Linked DNA regions of Homo sapiens: region 2 is linked to region 1. A link means that fine-mapping ties the variant in region 1 to the expression of a gene that starts in the linked region. Tissue or cell type: adrenal gland. Region 1 holds a variant in brackets; the other region holds the start of a gene. All regions are shown on one strand. Distances are from middle to middle.

Region 1 (2,690 bases):
AGATTCCCATAATGCATATATTAGTCTGCTTGATGGTATTCTATAACCCACTTAAGCCTTCTTCACTCTTTTTCATTATTTTTTATTATCACTCCCCTGACTGAATTATTTCTAATGGCTTGTCTTCCAGTTTGCTAATCCTTTCTTCTGCTTTATTTAGTCTGATGTTGAATCCTTCTAGTGAATTTTTCAGCCAATTCTCTGGAGAGCCCACAAAGAAAAGATGGCGTACTGGTTGCACAAACCAACCCCTTCTCTCCCCTGGATGAGTTAGGGCATCTCTTCCTGACTGTCTGGTACTGTACCAGGGGCAGTATCTCCAGCAACAGGGTATCCTGAATCTCCCTACTAGCTTCACTAGTCTTGTTTCATGTTCTCTCAGGATGCAACAGCCTTTACAATTAGTTTCTGATTTCTCACAAACAGAATTTGTCTGTGAATTGTTGCTGAATTAGTATTTTGGGAAGGTGAGGAAGGGTCCAAGTCTTCCTACACCACCATCTTGCTGATGTCACCCCCCACTCCTTCATTTTGAAGGGGTATTTTTGCTTGGTGTGAAATCCTGGATTGACAGTTTTTCTGCACTTTAAAAATGATTCTCCCTTGTCTTCTTGCTTGCATGGTCTCTGATAATAGATCTGCTATATGTAATTCTTATTCTTGTTCCTCAATAGACAATTTTTTTCTTGTTATCTTCAAGATTTTCCTTTTATTTTTAGTTTCCAGCAGTTTAAATATAATATGTGTAGATGTGTTTTAAAATTTTGTTTTGGTATTTATCTCTGAGCTTCTTGGACCTATGGTTTCGTGTCACTAACTTGGAAAATTCTCAGCCATCATTTATTTAAATACTTTTCTTCCATCTCTGCTCCAATTACCCATCAGGTCCATTTCATATAAGTCATAGTTATCTTAAATTCCTGTTGGGTTGTTGCAATACCTATGTCATAACTAAGTCAGTTATGATTATTGCTTTGTCTCTTTGAAGTATGTTTTTTCTTTTTCTTCTTGCCTTTTTATATGCCTCATAATCTTCATTGAAGGCTGTACATCTTGGATAGTACAGTAGATATGAAGGTTAAGAAGTTTTTACACTTAAACATGAGTATGTCTTTTCTTCTGCTAGGTTTTTAACATGGGGGGTTATGCTGGTCTATTCAATAGCTGGACAGGGTTTGAGGTTTGTCATTGCTGTGGTTACACTGAGTGTACC[C/A]CAGGCTTCAATAATATCCTCTAATAATATCTGTGTTTAAGGTAAGGGTTGATTTCCCATGGTTGTTTTCTCAATGCATGTTTCTCCCTTAGTTTTGGGTGTTCCATTTGTGCTGCTCCCCAGAGAGAATCTCTCTTGCAGGCTTCCTAGCTGTACTCTACTATTGCTTCTATTTGATTCTTGTTATCTTGGTGGGGGTTGAGTAGACGGAGGGATAGCATTCTCTTATGATCTCACTAAGCCTCAGTCTTAGGCAGACACCATATCCCTAAGTCTTGGGGATGTGGCCTTCACAAGTGCTCTTGCCGCTCTGCCAGCTGTAGTGCTAGTCCTAGAGCATATTCCTCCCCTACTCCCAGAGATATTACTTTTTTTCAGGTCCCTTTCCTAAACTGCAATAGCTTTCTACAAGTCTCCTAAGGCAACTGTTTTTGCTGCTCTTCATTATGCAGTGATAGGGAAGATGGGTTTGGGCTGCTGTTGCCCTCCCCCAGCTAACACCACAAGGAAAGGCTTCTCAGGATTCACTCCCATCTTCCCTATGAGTGCCTGTTGGGATTCCCAGAGGAAAAGCCTACAAGAGACTGCAACCCCCACCTCCCTAATTTTGCAAGTCCCCCAGTGGTTTCACACTTTCATTAGCTGACATTCACACTTTAAAAATTTGTTTAAAAACTTGATAGCTGTATTTTCTTACTGGCTTATATGGTGTCTGGCAGAGTCCATCCCAGGTAAGTAAAGCTTGAGTCCTGTTTCTCTCAGCTGGCATCTTTCTTTCCCCAGATTTAAGATTACTTGGTTGCCCTGTGACCTCAGTTCTCTGAAGGGTCCTAGAAAAATTATTTTGTAGTTTGTCCATTTCCTTGTTGTACGGTAGAAGTTTGTAGTTTCCTTGTTGTAATGATTGAAGCAAAGTTCTTTCCAGCTGTTTACATCCCTAAGGAGAAACCCAAAGTCCCCTCATTACAATAAACTTTTGAGAAGTCCTTCAGTTTATTTTGTCATGGGGCTCAAAAATACCTTGCAAATAAAGTTAGGATTAGGATAACAGTTTAAAGTCAAGTAAATTAGCTAGGATGGAGTGGGAGTGGGAAAGCATTACAAGCAAAGCAGTAGCAATTGGTAAGGCCTCAGAAAAGACGGAATTCAGTATACTGGAGGAACTCAACTTTAAGCTAATTGAGGAAATACTTTAGAAATAAATTCACAAACTAAATGTTATATTCATAACAAATGTTATTTTTCTTTCCACTGCAAAGAACTTACTTCCAGCCATATCAATTTGTTTAGTTTCTGGACTATCATGCATGATTCCCTCCTGAAATGAGCTCTGATACAGTTAAAATGCTTACAGCAACTGCCATATCTACATAATAATATATATTTTTTAACACTCCACTTGCTTGAATCCACGTTTTGCCAAAAACCTAAAACTCATTGAAAGCTCTACACCTGGCAGCATCTCTCAAGGCAGAAA
Region 2 (2,690 bases), 94 kb after region 1:
CAACATCGCAAAACCCCATCCCAACAAAAAAATACAAGAAATTAGCTGGGTGTGGTGATGCACACCTGTGGTCCCAGATACTCAGGAGTCTGAGGCAGGAGGATTATCTGAGCCTGGAGAGGTGGAGTCTGCAGTGAACCATAATTGCACCACAGCACTCCAGACTGTGTGACAGAATGAGACCCTGTCTCGAAAAAAATCTTAAATTTATGTATCTTAAGAATATACATTAATATAGAGTTTAAATATCAAATAAAGAGGGTTTTTTAAAGTTGAAACAATGTATCAGAGGATAAAAAACCATAAAACATTTGTTTAAATTTAAAGGATTTGTTTAATCTGCCCTATTAATTGCAATTTTCACAGTTAACTAGTACTATTTTTTATTTAAATAATAGTATGTATGTAACAGAATAGTAAAGATGTAACCTGTGGATGCTGTTTTACAGCAGCAGAAACTGGAACACATGCAGTCTCATGATTGTCCTACTCTTTTGCCAGATCATTGCATTGTCTGCCCAGGCACCCCTCATCCCATCTCTCTCCATCCCTTTTCTTACCTTTTCATGTTCCTTGTCTTTTCATGACAGCATTTATCAATGTCTGAAAGTAGAATGTTGTTGATTGACTCTCTCTTCAACTAGAACATAAGCAATGAGCGGCCCAGCCTTTGTCCCACACACTGCAGTGTGTCCCACTTCTAAGAAAGTGTCCAACACACAGCAGGAACTCAGTCAGCATTTCTTGAATGAATTAAGTGAAGTGATGCATACAGGCCACATTCTGAGCTGCTGGAGGAGCCAGTAGTTGATTACCAAACTCTAGTCCTTTATCTTGGTGTCCTGATGTCCTGACTGATACACAGTTTGTAGGCAAATAGCTGGTGGGGTTTAGTAGTATGGGATAGAATAAAGGGAGATGTAATTGGGACACTCTCCACATTATCTGCCCCCATGAAAAGCTAGTTCCAGGTGTTGCCATCTCTGCCCCACACTGGGCTTGCCTTAGTCCTCGTTCCCGCCTTTTCCAGACAGCAGTGCTGAGAAGCAGGAGCCCCTGAGCTTGGAGACGCAGGAAGAGCCCTGGGAGGCCCAGATCAAAGGGAGGCAGTCAGCTCATGGAGCCGAGGAATGTTCTGCTGACACCCACCCCGAGGGTATCCGGTATGTTTCTGTGCACCAGCGACCCCTCCACACCTCACCAGATTGGTTCCCCAGCCCCGTGGGACCCAATTCCGGGTCAATTCCAATTTGATTCCAGTCCAGAATCAAATCAGAAGAGCAATCCCGAGTGCCCACCTCACGGTCTGAAGCACCTCCTCCTACACCCGGACCCAAACACGAGGTCGGCTCAAGGAGGCACTGAGGTCACGACAGTCAGGGTCCTGCGCTGCTTGTCGCATGCAGTCTCCTTCCCCGAACCGCCGCCTGCACGGCCTCCACTGTTTTCCTATTGGGCTGCAGCCTGAGAGCCCTGACAATGCGGCCCACAAACCGGGAACGCGAAAGTGCACGTACCAGGCGCGATCACCAGGCGCTAGCGCTGAGGGGGGACTCGCGTCACAGTAACCGCCACCGTTGCCGGGGGACTGGCCCCAGCGGCTTGGCCCCCAGGCGTCTGTGGCAGTGCGTCCCCTCTCCGCGGGATCGTCGCCATGGTCCTGCGATCCTAGGAGTCGGGCAAGGCCGAACCTGCCTGAAGAAACCTCAAGCGGAGATTCAAGGAAGCACCACGTGATCCCTAAGGATCCCAAAGATGCGTCGGGCATGCATGGGCGGTGTGAGGGTGCGTCTCCCTGACAGGTGTCCCCGCTGGGATTTCGAGGTACGGCCTGCCTGTGTTCCCCGGGGCGCTCTCTTTCCGGAGGGGTTTCCTGGCAGAGAGCAGAACCGCGCAGCCTCAGGAGCTGCCTGGCTGTGTGTGTTTCTGTGCGACTGTTGGATGTTTCCGTGTGTCTTTCTGTGTGTGCGTGTGAGTGTGTGTGTGGTGTGCGGTGAAAGAAATGTGGCTCGTGCAGTGAAGCGCGGTTTCTCTGTAGTTCGCCTACGCTCTGATGCGCCCGTCTCTTTGGCCGGGCTTGGGTTGCGGGGCAAGCGTTCTTTGTTTCGCTCTTGGTTCCTAAAGCCTCGGTGAAGTGGGGGGCTGGCTGCGACCCGCAAACGTCCAAATCACCTCCCCTCCCAAGCCGCCCACTCTTCCAGAAAGAAGACCAGCACACGACAACCAAGAACAAATTCCTCCAGGGGCCCATGGTCCTGCGGCACACCCAAGGCTGGACGGACCCTAGCTGTCCTGTCCTCAGTACCCCCTTGAGCCCACTTCTAATTCGGTGGCTGGCGGAGTCGCAGCTTCAGGACCTGAGGCGGGCACTCCTTCATCCTCTTCAGATTTCATTCTGGATTAAAGGATGTGTGCAGAAAAAAGGTCAGATGGGGGTGAAGATACAATCCGCTGAGGTGTGGAGGAGGTCTCGCACCTTCACCTGCAGAACAGGTGCAGACAGATGTCAAAGAAACTGTTTCCAACGCCATCCCCTTTTCCTCTTCACTGTACAACCTGTCCACACCATGGCGCTGTGCTGGCGATAGAAGACACGAGTGTTCGGAGAACCTTTGGACCGAAGACTGTCGCCTTTCTGGCCAGGTCCCCTGTTGGACCCTGGTTCCCCGAGGCACATGGGAGTGGGATGG

What was found. PIP is the estimated chance that this variant, and not a neighbour inherited with it, causes the effect.
Region 2: it holds the start of ZNF571-AS1, and the variant in region 1 is fine-mapped to the expression of ZNF571-AS1 in adrenal gland (GTEx, PIP 0.93).

What each region holds. Positions count from the first base shown.
Region 1 is chr19:37,452,924-37,455,613 of GRCh38, forward strand. All of the region lies in intron 2 of ZNF569 (zinc finger protein 569), which reads right to left. Among named protein-coding and RNA genes, the nearest start is that of ZNF569, 13 kb to the right of the region's middle. The variant C/A (reference allele first, on the strand shown) is at 1,214.
Region 2 is chr19:37,547,332-37,550,021 of GRCh38, forward strand. It overlaps ZNF571-AS1 (ZNF571 antisense RNA 1), which reads left to right and starts at 1,618. Exons shown (of 6, transcript NR_038248.1): 1 at 1,618-1,824. It overlaps LOC124904708, which reads right to left. Exons shown (of 2, transcript XR_007067248.1): 1 at 561-2,690.